Homo sapiens: one gene and its partner. The protein of the gene in region 2 interacts with the protein of the main gene of each other region in a pairwise test. Each region holds a gene or a part of one and is shown on either strand. Other genes may lie near its edges.

Region 1 (7,000 bases), on a different chromosome or scaffold from region 2:
TGTGGGTAAGACTTGTAAACGTGGTGGGAATTCGCACCAAAGATTAGGTGACTAGTCAGATGACTTTGAGTTCATCAAAAGGCAGGTTACCTGGGTGAACATGATCTAATCAGGTGAGCTATAAAAGAAGGGCTAAGATTATTCCGTCAGACTTGAAGAAGCAAACAGCTAATGGTGTTGTGAACGACCTGTGGGGTAATTGATGCAAACACCTGGGGACAACCCCTAGGAGTGGAGAGTCTACCAACTCCAGCCTACAGTCAACAAGGAAATGGGAACTGAGCTTGCCAACAGTCAGTGATCTTGAAAACCTCAGATGATATCAAAATCCCAACTAACACACTGATTTCATCCCTGTAAGGTTCTGAGCTGAAAACTCAGCTACACCATGCTCAGATTTCTGACCTACAGAAACTTTAAGATAATACACGTGTATGTTGGTTTAAGCCACTACGTTTGTGGTGAGTTTGCCACACAGCAATAGAAGGCCAATTCAAAGAGTGATTCATGAATTAAAATGTGTCAAGTTAGTTTAGTCAACGAGAATATTTTCATGGTTTGACTCCAAGAGCTCCTCACCCAATAGTAAGTTATTTTTAATGTTTTACTATGCATTAAATCAAAAAGCATCAAAGAAGTTAACATCATAGAGGGAGGAGGAGGGAGACTAAGGAAACAACAGCTTTTTTTTTTTGGCAAGAGTTTCATTGTCATCCAGGCTGGAGTGCAGTGGTGCCATACAGCTCACTGCAGCCTCTGTCTCCTGGGCTCAAACAATCCTCCCACTTCAGCCTCTTGAGTACCTGGGACCATAGGCACATGCCACCACACTCAGCTAATTTTAAAAATTTTCTTTTTGTATATAGACAGGGACTCACTATGTTGCCCAGGCTGGTCTCGAACTCCTGGCTTCAGGGGATCCTTCTGTCTTGGCCTCCCAAAGTGTTGGGATTATATGCATGAGCCACTGCATCTGGTTAGGAAACATCTTTGGAGAATAATTCCATTAATTCTGCCCAGTGGTGCCCACAGAAAGACAGAATTAATGGAGTAAACTGGTGGAGGGGCCTTCTGCTGGAGCTCCCTGGCCTTGTTTCCTCACACTTGGCAATGTGCTGTCCCTATAGCCTTCCCTTCTTTACTTCCAGGCCACAACTGCAGCCACCCAAGTACTAAGACTCCTCTCTGGGCTGGACACCCTCCCATAGGTCCCCAGGACCCATAGTGACATCCAGAGTAGAAAAAACAAATCAGTGTTCACACTCTGACCACACACAGTTGTGGGGCTGGGCACCAGGATATAACCACTCACTTTATCACCATAAAAGAAAGCACAAATCATTACTGCTGAGTCTTCCCATATATGTGAAAATAGAGAGAAGGTCCCCACCCCACGCCCTAAATAGTATCATTTGAATTCTTATGTTAGGTTGCCGTATTCTTGCAAATTAAAATTACCCTTCATTTTCATCTCCATTTTTAAAAATTGCACTCTTCATTTTCATAACATTATTGATTCTTTTATCCTAAAGCATTGTTAAATGAAATGTCATAAAGCGGAACTTGTAATAACTTACCCTGTAACTTTTTAGTCTGATGAAATCAACCTTCATTGAGACAAATCGATCTGAATTTCGGCTGATGTTCTTAAGGTGTTCTACGAGATCAGCACAGAATTTGTAACCTCCTTTAAGCACACACAGGACCATGATGTCACTATATCCTATGTCTTTCATAATATCCTTGGCCAGCCGCTCAATTCTGAAAGAAGGATAAAAGATATATTAAGGCACAACTACTTCTGAGTATTTATGTTGCTTTAATGAAATGCAAGATGTATTGTACGTATTCGATTACTCAGAGGAATGTGGGGAAAACCTTGGGAAACAGAAACCCACCGATAGAAAAGCTTTGTTAAGGTTGAACATAAGGTGTTCAAAACATACTGCTTTTTTTTTTTTTTTTTTTTAAGATGGAGTCTCACTCTGTTGCCCAGGCTGCAGTGCAGTGGCACGATCTTGGCTCACTGCAACCTCCACCTCCTGGGTTCAAGTGATTCTCCTGCCTCAGCCTCCCAAGTAGCTGGGAATACAGGCGCCTGCCACTATGCTCAGCTAATTTTTGTATTTTTAGTAGAGACGAGGTTTTGCCATGTTGGCCAGGCTGGTCTCGAACTCCTGACTTCAGGTGACCTGGCCACCTTGGCTTCCCAAAGTGCTGGGATTACAGGCATGAGCCACCATGCCTGGCAGTATTTACTGAATTCTAAAGAAGACACACGATCATAAAAAATGTACATCAGAATATCTGGCATGCTCCTTAAAAAGGAACATTTGGGCCAAGAGTGGTGTCTCACACCTGTAATCCCAGCACTTTAAGAAATCCAAGATGGGCAGATCACTTAAGGTCAGGAGTTTGAGACCAGCCTGGCCAACGTGGTGAAACCCCGTCTCTACTAAAAATACAAAAATTAGCCGGGCATGGTGGCGGGTGCCTGTAATCCCAGCTACTCGGGAAGCTGAGGCAGGAGAATCCCTTGAACCAAGGAGGCAGAGGTTGCAATGATCTGAGATTGCACCACTGTACTACTCCAGCCTGCGCGACAGAGCAAGGCTCCTTCTCAAAAAAAAAAAAAGAACATTTGTTTCCAACATGATGAAGTAAGGAGGTGAACACATCCTCTCCAGAAAAGCAACTATAAAACTGGGCAAAACTGCCAAAAACAACCATCTCATCATGTTGGAAATCAACCAAAGGCATACAACAAACTGAGAAGCATTTAATTCTGAAAACCCTGAACACTGGGTGGAAACAGCATGAGTCTGGGGCATTCTTGTGTGGGGATGCTCTTATTACCCCCCAGCCCCTATCCCCAGCTCTGTTGTTCAAACAGGCAGTTCCACCAAGGTGGTGCACTGCCAGAGGGAGCTCACCTGATAGGGAACACTGTAAGCTAAAATGGTCACCTTGGTGGCAGGGCTCCACTATCCTGAGGTGCAGTCACCGCTGAGCAGTGCACTGGCAGGCTGGCTGGGGATTTGATAGGAAGTTCCAGGGAGGAGGTTAGACAGTCATAGAACAGGGGCACACAATAAGTTCTTCATGCATCTCAATTGACCAGAGGCTGTACATATGCACAGCAGAGTGAGTTCAAGCCACCCACACATCCCTGGACAGTGAAGGCTGTGTACATGTGCAGAGAAGGCACAAGAAAGCTCAGGGGAAAGTAAACATCGAAAGATTTGAAAATGGTTGGAAATTTGAATCTACTTTCAAGTCCCCACACACCCCCATCAGCAGAGAGTGGAAGACTTACTGGCTTGACGTATTTGAGCACAACTTCTAACCAATTGTAGGCCAAACACTAAGCTATTCAAACACAGGGTGATCCCTAGTAAGTGAGGCTTAAAAATAAAAACAAGAGAAAAATAAACCTCACAGACATCAGAAGTCACACAGTGAGGTGGGCAGATCTCTTGAGGTCAGGAGTTCAAGATCAGCCTGGCCAACACGGTGAAACCCAATCTCTACTAAAAATACAAAAATTAGCCGGGCTTGGTGGTCTGCGCCTGTAATCCCAGCTACTCAGGAAGCTGAGGCAGGAGAATCACTTGAACCCAGGAGGCGGAGGTTGCAGTAAGCCCAGACTGTGCTATTGCACTCCAGTCTGGGTGATAAGAGTGAAACTCTGACTCAAAAAAAAAAAAAAAAAAAGTAGAATTTCACAGAGTGGAAGACAAAAAAGGAAACAACAACAGCAATGAATAGAAAATAGTTATAAATACGATAGATACTAAACATTATATCAATACTCATTTTAAATATGAATGGTCTAAATATAGCAATTAAAAGACAGACTGTCAGGGTGGATTAAAAAAAGATCTAACTGTATATTGCCCACAAGAAGCTCACTTTATGGCTTACACCTATAATCCCAGCACTTTGGGAGGCCAAGGCAGGCAGATCCCTTCAGGTCAGGAGATCAAGACCATCCTGGCCAACATGGTGAAACCCCATCTCTACTAAAAATACAAAAAATTAGCCAGGTGTGGTGGTGCATGCTTATAATCCCAGCTACTTGGGAGGCTGAGGCAGGAGGTTCACTTGAACCCGGGAGTTGGAGGTTGCAGTGAGCCGAGATTGTGCCACTGCACTCCAGCCAGGGTGACAGAGTGAGACTCTATCTCAAAAAAAAAAAAAAAAAAAAAAGAAAAAGAAACTCACTTTAAATATAAATATAAAAACAGATAGATTAAATGGATGGAGTAAGACATGCCATGCTAACATTAATCAAAAGAAAGTTGGAGTAGCTATTTTAATTTCAGACAGAGCAGACTTCTGAGTGAGGAATATGCAGGGATAAAGAGCATCATTACACAATAATAAGGAGGTCGATTATCCAAAGAGACATAACAATTCCTAATATATATGCTCCTAAAAACAAAGTGTCAAAAACCTAATAGAACTGCAAGGAGAAACAGGCAAATGCACTATTTGGAGACTTTAACATCCCCTCTATCAGTAATTGACAGGTCCAACAGTCAGAGAATCAGTAAGCATATAGTTGAACTGAGAAGCACCATCAACTGACTGGATCTAATTAACACATATACAATACTTCACCCCACAACAGCAGGATACACATTCTTCTTAAAAGATACCAGTAAGAAAATAGTAAGACAAACCATAGGCTGGGAGTAAATATTTGCAAATCATATATCTGATAAAGGACTATTATCCAAAATATATAAAGAACTCTTATAGTTCAATAAGAAGATGAACAATTGAATTTAAAAATTGGCAAAAGACTTGAAAAGACCTCTCTCCAAAGAAGGCTTATGAATAGCTAACAAGTATACTAATGATTAGGAAAATACAAATTAAAACCACGGTGAGATACCATTAGACAGCCACAAGAATGGCTATAATCAAAAGGACAGACAATATTCAATGTTGGCAAGTATGTGGAAAAACTGAAACCTTCATATGCTGCTGGTGGCAATGTAACAAGGTGCAGCCACTTTGGAAAATAATTGGCAGTTTCTTACACTTACCAGAAAACCCAGAATTCCACAATGAGAAATCCATCCAAGAGAAATGAAAAGATATGTCCACACAAAACTTATATGTGAATGTTTATAGAAGCATTTCCACAATAGCCAAAAATGGGACATCCAAATGTACATCAACTGGTCAATCAATAATTAGCTATTGTACGATTTTCTTACGCAAAATGGCCAGAAAAGACAAATTTATAGAAAAAGATGCTGGAAGTGGGAGCAGGGATTGGCTGCAAACAAACTTTTGGGGATGATGGAAATGTAAAACTGGATGGTGCTGATGGTTGCCTGACCATAAAAATTTACTAAAAATCATTTAGTTGTTCACCTGCAATGGGTGAATTTTGTGCAGTAGTATATAAATTAATCTTGTGTGTGTGTGTGTGTGTGTGTGTTTGTGTGTTTGAGACAAGGTCTCGCTCTGTTCCCCAGGCTACAGTGCAGTGGTGTGATCATGGCTCACTGCAGCCTTGACCTCCCAGACTCAAGTGATCCTCTCGCCTTAGCCTCCCTAGTAGCTGGGACTACAGGCCTGTGCTACTATGCCTGACTAATGTTTTTTATTTTTTTGTAGAGACGGGTTCTCACTACATTGCCCAGGCTGGTCTCAAACTCCTGGCTCAAACAGTCCTCTTGCCTCAGCCTCCCAAAGTGCTGGGATTACAGGAACGAGCCACTGTACCCAGCCCTGTAAATTACATCTTAATTTTTTTTTTTTTTGAGACAAGATCTCAGTATTTGAGATTAGCCCAGGTTAGTCTCAAATTTTTGGGTTCAAGTGATCCCCACACTTCAGCCTCTGGAGTAGCCTGGATTACAGGTGCATGCCATAGCCCCTGGCTTATAAATTTATTTCAAAGGTGAAAACGGACATTCTTGGGCCCCACCCTAGAATATCGATTTGAAATTTCTAGACATAAAGCTTAAGAATATGCATTTTAACAAGTTTACTGGATGATTCTCTTGTACAAAGAAAAGGCTTAGGGTAACCCTACCCCCTACCCAGGAGTCAATCATGTTCTGACTGATTTTAAATTAATTTTAAATTAGAAAATTCAGGTAAGAAATGCAAGAATTTGTTTAAATTAGGAGCTTCCCAAACTGGTATTAAGGGAAATCTCTTCTGAGAGTTGTAAATAGGTAAACTGAGTACAAAGTCTCCCTTTGCACAAAAAAAGGTTGCTTTAATTGTTAAAGTCAAGCAGGTTTCTTTTCTGTGTTCTTCTTTTCTTTTGGCTGGAATTTCCATATTTTCAATATGCTAATGTTTGTTTTGATTTGTCAACTGAGAGACAAAAATATGGAAGACACAAAATTTCCAAAGTTTATTTGATCACGGAACGTCCCCCCTCTGTGAGGGTGGGACTTCTTTGCCACGGAAAAGCCATCTTAGGACATTGTTATTTTGAGGCTGTTACTTATAATAGCTTATGTATGTATATCCTTCTTACCATATTACCATACCGCCTGAACAAATGTCCAGGTAAACCATTCAATTTAAGCATACATTCATTTTATTCCAAATTCACTGCCCTATATAAAAGTTCTCTCTACCACTATAAAACGCAGCTCAGGAATAGGGTCCTAAAGTATATTGTGGGATTCACACAAGTGTGGGCCGGCCCAGTGCAGGACCAAGATTGACACAGGAAATCACACTCACCTGTCCACAATGATACCATGAGGGATGAGGACATACTCCAAGTCTCCATAATAGTGCTGTGGGTACGTGAATAAATTCAAGTCATACCCTGGCCAATCATCCATAATCTGCAAATCAAATTATTTTGGTTATGGTATTTTTTCATCAGAAATTTGTTTAAAACATAACAAAAGAGTATCACTTGAGAGGAGAATTCCCTCAACTTATGAAAAGTTTAGTGGAACAAGGTTATTTGTTTCCACAACCTGATACAAGGCGCAGTACTAAAGTGAACAGA
Region 2 (7,700 bases):
CCCATACAGAGGTTGGGTCTCTCCACAGTTAGGAGACAGGATGTTAGCACAGCCTCCGAGGGCCTGAGACATTGGTAGTTTCACAGGCACAGGTGGATACTACTCCCACAAACCTCTAGTGCAGAACTCAGCAAACTTTGGTCCACAGGCCAAATTTGGCCTGCGGCCTTTATTTTTTATTTTTTTAGACAGAGTATCGCTGTCACCCAAGCTGGAGTGCAGTGGCACAATCTCAGCTCACTGTAACCTCTATCTGCTGGGTTCAATTGATTCTCCTGCCTCAGCCTCCTGAGTAGCTGGGATTATAGGTGCCCGCCACCATGCCCAGCTAATTTTTATATTTTTAGTAGAGGCAGGGTTTCACCATGTTGGCCAGGCTGGTCTCAAATTCCTGACTTCAAATGATCGACCCACCTCAGCCTCCCAAAGTGCTGGGATTACAGGCGTGAGCCACCACACCCGGCCCTGTGGCCTGTTTTTATACAGCTTATGAGTTAAGAATGGTTTTCTTTTCTTTCTTTTTTTTTTTTTTTTTGAGACAGAATCTTGCTCTGTCACCTAGGCTGGAGTGCAATTGCACAATCATGGTTCACTGCCTCGACCTCCTGGCCCAAGCAATACTCACACCTCACACCGTAGCCTCCTCAGTAGCTGGGACTACAGGCATGTGCCACCATGCCTAGCTAATTTTTCTATTTTTTGTAGAGATGGGGTTTTGCCATGTTGCCCAGGCTAATCTCAAACTCCTGGGCTCCAGCAATCTGCCTACCTCAGCCTCCCAAAGTGCTGAAATTACAGATATGAGCCACCATGCCTGGCCTGGTTTTTACATTTTTAAATAGTTTTTTTTTTAATTAAAGAAGAATAATATTTTGTGACATGTGAAAATTATATAAGTTCAAACTTCAGTGTCCATACAGTTTTATTGGCATACAACCATACTCATTCACTTATATATTGTCTTTTCTTTTTTTGAGACAGGGTCTCACTGTCACCCAGACTGGAGTACAGTGACACAATCATGGCTCACTGCAGCCTCAATCTACTGGCTCAAGCAATCCACCTACCTCAGCCTCCCAAGAAGCTGGGACTACAGGTGAGCGCCACCATGCCAGGCTAATTATAGCTGCTTTCAAACAACAGAAGGGTTAAGTTGTTGCAACAGAGACTATATGGCTAGTGAAGTCTAACATATTTACTACTGGCCATTTACAGAAAAAGTCTGGACTGCAAGGAAGACCAAAAAAAAAAAAAAAAAGGAAAAAGAACAAGTTTGAAGACCCCTCCAACACACACACACACACATAGACACGCTAATGGATGGGTCAGGTAGGGCCACTAGGGCAAACCCATCCATCTCTGAAAGAAATAATCAGGACATTTGTCTTGAGGAGCTGGGGTCAAAATATCTTTCTGAAAAAGCAACATTTTGATTTTTTCCAAAAGAAATTAGAACTGTTTTTTATTTAGGTCCTGTGTTTAATTAAGCCTTACAGAAAATTACCTAAGTGACTATCTTTTCAATTCTCCCAAGGATGGTACTTAGCTGGTACCCCTCTAGATGCAGAGAAGAGAAATTAATTCATTACATAAAATGAATGCCTTAGGGTATCAGGACTTAATTCTGTTAAGAAACCCTGGTGGACAGGGCTGACTTAGGATGTAGCCTAAAAATCAAATTCTTCCTGCCAACCAAGATCCCTTCTGCTCCAGGATTCTGCAGGGACAGGCAGCGACTAAACCAACCCATAAGGGAAGCTGGGTCCTTTGTATGTGGAAGGGGCAGGAAGGTGCTCTCTCAGCACCAGTACCCCAGAGCCCCCGTGAAGTCCCTTGGCTGAGTGAGCCGGTGTACCTGGCCCCTGTTGCCTACTCTCTCCACCCTTATCCACGGCACCCTCTCCATCCAAGAACGCACCAGTGGGGAGCCCCAGGGTGAAGTACTTCTCTGGCCCTGGGTTAAACTGGATGATGCGGTTCCTGATGTATTTAGCCGCCCACTCGCTCGCCTGAGAATAGTGCTCCAGGATGATGAGCTTCATCTTGTCCTGCAGTGGGGGAGAGGGGATGACAGAAAGGAATCAATGGTAAGGGGCAGAGAAAGAGATGGAGGTGGTGGGAGAAGCTTCTCTTACCCAGCAACAATCCCCTTCCCAAGCTGTCTGAGCCAGGAAAAAGGCCTTTCTATTCACAGAGGAGCTAAGAGGCTAGGCCAGTCGTCTCCACCACCCACAGACCACGAGGAGGCGCCACTGGGGGCAGATCTGGGTTCTAATCTCAGCTCCTTCACTTACCACCTGCAGGACCTCGGTCAAAGGACCTAAGTTCTCTCTGAGCCGTTTCCTCCTATGTAAAAATTGGGACAATAGTACCTACTTCACAGACTTCACGACGGGTAATATGAAATGAGAGAATGCATGTAAACAACTTAGTATTTTCTACGTTGGCTGTTACCATCCAGATAGATGCTCGGCTCAGCCCCGCCTCCCTCATCCCTGCCCCTACCGGAACGGGATACCCTACCCCCTCCCCGCCGTCTACCCCAAGACTCTTCCTCCAGAAGTAGAGAGGTCATGGGATCATGCTGGGCCACTAGAGCAGGTGGGGCAATGAGCTCTGCCTGGGGAGCTGTGTGCTCTCTCTGGACTAGCGGAGGGGTCTTCCTACTGGCCCACCTTGCTTTGCGAACCCCTCTGGGTCTTCAGTTTCCCCCAAAGCACAAAAGGGAAAAGGTAATCGCTCCAGAAGGAGGACATTTTGTTCCCCCAGCACTGCGGTTAGTGGGAGTGTGAAGGAAAGAGGCGAAGGTGGCCCGCGCGGTCGTCGGTGGGGTACAGCGTGTCCCCCACCCCCATTACCACCCCATCGCCCCTCCGATCCCTCCTGGAAAATGTGTGAGGGCGGCTCCCCGGGGTCCCGACCCCGAGTGCCGTAGGGCTGGGGCAGCGCTCCGCGCTCCGGCCCGCGAGGAAGGTCCCCGCCAGCCCTGCTACCCACTTACACGGACGCCTCCCGCGGCGGCTGCAGCGACTGCGCCGGCGGCCCGGCCCCGCGCGGGTCACGTGGCTGCGGGTCACGCGGCGCCGCGTGCGCCGCCCGCCGGGCTGACTCAGCTTGGCCGCAGCTACCCGGACCGACTCTCCCAGGTGGAGGAGTTCCGGCCACTCAGTCCCACCTCGGTCCCTGGCCCCGGCAGGCCCTGGAACAGACCTTAAAAAACACTTTCCCTTGGGAGGCGGGGATTCGAGTCTGGTTTGTGTGTGTGTGTGTGCAAGAGGAGGGAGACTTGAGGGGCGCCGGGTCGCCCCCAGGAATACAACCCCCTGGACCTTGGGGCTGGGGCCGGGGGGTTTTAGTGCAGGGGTTGAGCTGGGGGCAGGCAAAGCAGAATCGCTTCCTCAGTCTCCTAGGGTTGGGCCTGGCTCTGCCTTCAGTTTCTTTCTTTGTTTAGATGCCATTTATTTACCCAAGTATTAAAACTTGTGTTGTTTAAAGTACAATTGGGCTTTTTAATGTCCTTTTTTAAAGATCAAACTTTGCAGCATTATATAATAGAGAAAAAGGCAGGCCCCTGGTTTCCCCAACTCCCCACACCAAGATAACCATTGCTTAGTTTAAGAGTACATTCTGAATTGCTTTCTTTGAATATGCTTACACTGTTATTTTACATAAATGGGAACACATACACATGAGGCTTATATATATCAAGGCTCGGATATTTGACCTGCATTATTTCACTTAATCCTTATTAAGCTCCAGTGAGGTAGGTTTGCCGTTACTTTTTAACAGGTGGAGAAACTGACGCTTGGAGAGAAAAATTAACTTGGCCAGAGGCACAAGTGGTTTCCCTTGTGCCTTCAATTCAGGGGGATCTGTCCAAATCCAAAATCCATGCTTTTTACCGCTAGCGGGCACTGCCTCCCAGCTGGTATGACTGGATTTGGGACGCTTCCATATCAGAAAAAGAGATCCATCTTATTCTTTCCAGTCAACATTAGAGTGTTCCAGACTTCTAGGGACACTTGGGAACTTTCCATGCGGAGGCTGGAGGAAGGACTTGAGTGCTGGTCATCAGTAACATCTTCCATTACATAGGGTTTTGCCAGAGCTTTGTGCGCATTATTTCATAGAATCCCGCCCAATCGTCAGATATGATTACCGCCATTTTATTGATGTGGAAACTGGGGATCAAAGGCGTACAGAGACTTGTGATATATGACCTCATAGTCTGACATCCCGGACTTTAGTCAGTGCTAGGGAGCAGTGGTGAGACCTTCTGAATCAGCCTAGTTTTCCTCCAGCAGCAAAAGGCCAAAGGAATCCTGGCTTTATGCCCACGGGACAGGGCCTTCCTCAGTCAGCCGGGTGGCCACGTTCTGCAATTCTGCTGAATCTGCTCACTGTGGACAGCCCCAGGCGCTCACCCAGCCCTTGGGCCCAACTGCAGCTCCAGACCAGCTTGCTAGGGGTAGGCTTCATCTGGTGAGGCCCTGATGAGACCAGATGGTGGAGCTGATACCTTTACAGTGTGGGGGACTTGCTCTTTGCCTCAGTGTTATTTTGTTTTGTTTTGTTTTGTTTTCCAAATCCTGAGAGGCTGTGAATGGCTCGGTGTTGGTGTAGTTTTTGTTTATTTTTAAATTCAGTCAGAAATCTTTTTTTTTTTTTTTTTGAGATGGAGTCTCGCTCTGTTGCCCAGGCTGGAGTACAGTGGTGTGATCTCTGCTCACTGCAACCTCCGCCTCCCGGGTTCAAGCAGTTCTCCTGCCTCAGCCTCCCGGGTAGCTGGGATTACAGATGCCCACCACCATGCCCAGCTAATTTTTGTACTTTTAATAGAGATGGGGTTTCACCATGCTGGCCAGGCTAGTCGTGAACTCCTGACCTCAGGTGATCTGCCCGCCTTGGCCTCCTAAAGTGCTGGGATTACAGGCATGAGCCACCGCCCCCAGCCAGAAATGTTGTCTCAGCTTGAGGACTGCAGATGTTTCACAATGAAGCTCCAACTCCAATCTCCGATCACGTCTGATAACATGGGCCAGGTCTGCAGCATCTGCATCCAGACCTTTCCAGGAGGAGAGTGACTGACTTCTGGTGACTAAGCCCATTTCCCCTGAGTTACCCCTTCTGCAGGGAACCAGTGCAGGGTCTCTGCGAAGCCTGGAGGCTCTTGGATCAGCGTGGGGACTAATCGGAAAGACCTGCATTTCAATTCTGGTCTGGCTAATTTCTGGTTATTTAGTGAGTAATTCAAGCAAATGACTCAACTTCTCCAGGTCTCAGTTTTCTTACCTGAAACATAAGAATTGAGTGGAAATTAAGTAATACTGCCCTCGTGTGGCTGTTGTGACTATTAAATGAAATATTAGCATAGCATGGCATTCACAGCCAGCTGTTATTACTTACCCCTTATTTCCTCCTAACCCTCCTTACAGCCCACTCTCTAACCATACTGAAATGCTCTCTAGCCCTAACCTCCTGACTCCCTGTACTCCTCCTACTCCACATCTGTGTTTAAACTATTACCCACACCTATCCTCCCATCCTCTTGTCTTGGAACTAAAGTTGCCAAATTAAAAGAATTGTGAGTTTATCCATGCAATGGAACACTCTGCAACTCTTGTATGGTCAGATATTTTTATACCTTCTAATGCACCCTTGCTTTGGGCAAACAACCTGACCAGATGTTACCTCCCAAATTCTGCTCAATTCATAGAGTTTGTGTGGTGCTGGCCCTACCCTTTGACTTAGGAGCAAACCAATTAGAGACTCCATGGCTCTGGCCATGATTAGTTCAAGGCCAGGCAGGCATGGAAGACACTAACCCAGCAGCCATTCAGAGACTCCTTCTCCCTTGCTGCTTCCCACTGGAGAAACTGGAAAGTCAACGACTCTCACAGCTTCTCCCACAGCTACGGGGTGGCCAAGTAACTTCATTCTGCCCAATGAGGGAGGAGGATGGCTTCTGGTTAGATATTTTACTTCCTGAGAAAAGTGCTGTGCTTGAGAAACAAACTGGCGGTTTCTGGTTCCTTCCCTTTCCTTCCTGCCTTGAAGGCAGTTGTGATGACTGAAGCTGGGGAGGCCACGTTGTAACTGTGAGGCACCAAGCATAAGGATAGAGTGGAGGAGGGAAAACACTTATGTCCTTGATATCTGACTAGTGCTGGGACCTCCTACTTCTGGACTTCTTCTAAGTAAATGGTAAATGTCCTTATGGCTTAAACTTTAAATCATTGTTAGGAGAATTTCCTGTGACTTGAAATTGAAAACATGACTCACTGCTAGAGCAGGTGATTCAGATCTTCCTTAGGGTTTATGCCACTACTGGGGGAAAATACACTTCTCCTGAGATCTTGAGCCGTAAAACAGAGGAAAGCTTAGAGCTACAGAAAGGTACAACAAATAGAAGAGAGACACAGAACTCTGATGACATCATTTGAGCCCCCTAGAATAGCATGTCTGAAGCCAAATATACCCTTTTGGGTTTCGTGGTTGAGTGAGTGAATGAGTGAATACATAATTAAATATCATTTTCCCCTGAAGCTAGTTAGAGGAAATTCTGGAAGGATATTTTATTAGTTATCTATTGCTGTGTAACAGATTACCCCAAAACTTAGTGGCTTAAAACAACAATAATGACTTATTTCTCACAGTTTCTGTGGGCTAGAAATTCAGACAGGATACAGTGGCGATGATATCTTGCCCCTCAACTGAAAGACTCAAATTCTGGGGCTGGAATCGTATGAAAGCTCATTGACTCACATGTCTTGACAACAGGTGCTCACTGTCAGTGGAACACTCACACATGGCTCTCCTTGTTGCCTGGGCTTCCTCACAACATAGCGGTGGGTTCCAAGGGCAAGCGTATCAAGAGACAAAGATGGGCTAAGGCTGTATCCTTCTTCTGACCTAGTCTCAGAAGTCATATAGCATCACTTCTGCTGAGCTCTGTGGGTTGGAGAAATCACAAGCCCCTATCCAGATTTAAAAAGAGAAAACATAGACCCCCATCTCTCTGTGTAAGAAGTTCAGTAATATTATAAGAAGAGCATGTTGGACGGGATACATGTACAAGTATGGCCATGTTTAAAAAATACAATCTGCCACAGACACACACTAACTTGTTATTAAGATGTGATCTGGCCAGGAGTGGTGGGTCACACCTGTAATCCCAACACTTTGGGAGGCAGAGGCGGGCAGATCACTTGAACCCAGGAGTTTAAGACCAGCCTGGCCAACATGGTAAAACCCTGTCTCCACTAAAAATACAAAAATTACCCGGGTGTGGTGGCACGTGCCTGTAATCCTAGCTACTCAGGAGGCTGACGCGTGAGAATCGCTTGAACCTGGGAGGTGAAGGTTGCAGTAAGCTGAGATCGCACCACTGCACTGCAGCCTGGGTGACAGAGCAAGACTCTGTCTCAAACAAAACCCCCTGCCCCATTTGGCAAAAAAAAAAAAAAAAAAAAAAAAAATTTAATAAAAAGATTTGATCAAAGTAATTGACCATCTACTCTGTGCTGGTCACTGTGCTAAAAGTTTTTAAAGCATCGTCTCATTGACTCATCATATTTTTTCAAAGTGGGTGCTGCGGGTTGGATACATTCTGCCTAATATTTGTATGAAATGAATGATTTTGTCTTGAAGGAAAAACAACAACAAAACCTTGAAAACTTAATGAATCTTATGCTTCCATC

Evidence for each region. Proteins that work in one complex are often made in the same cells at the same time.
Region 1: the proteins of GNPDA1 (region 2) and PRTFDC1 interact in binary tests that used the Homo sapiens proteins (3 or more experiments, as listed by UniProt).

What each region holds. Positions count from the first base shown.
Region 1 is NC_000010.11:24,935,607-24,942,606, forward strand, and holds part of PRTFDC1 (phosphoribosyltransferase domain-containing protein 1), read right to left. Parts: intron 6,831-7,000; coding exon 6,724-6,830; intron 1,762-6,723; coding exon 1,578-1,761; intron 1-1,577. UniProt on the Homo sapiens protein: Has low, barely detectable phosphoribosyltransferase activity (in vitro). Binds GMP, IMP and alpha-D-5-phosphoribosyl 1-pyrophosphate (PRPP). Is not expected to contribute to purine metabolism or GMP salvage.
Region 2 is NC_000005.10:142,009,994-142,017,693, forward strand, and holds the start of GNPDA1 (glucosamine-6-phosphate deaminase 1), read right to left. Parts: upstream 3,035-7,700; 5' UTR 3,002-3,034; exon of another isoform or gene 2,757-3,001; coding exon of another isoform or gene 2,676-2,756; intron 2,347-2,675; exon of another isoform or gene 2,295-2,346; intron 2,049-2,294; coding exon of another isoform or gene 2,043-2,048; coding exon 1,919-2,042; intron 1-1,918. UniProt on the Homo sapiens protein: Catalyzes the reversible conversion of alpha-D-glucosamine 6-phosphate (GlcN-6P) into beta-D-fructose 6-phosphate (Fru-6P) and ammonium ion, a regulatory reaction step in de novo uridine diphosphate-N-acetyl-alpha-D-glucosamine (UDP-GlcNAc) biosynthesis via hexosamine pathway.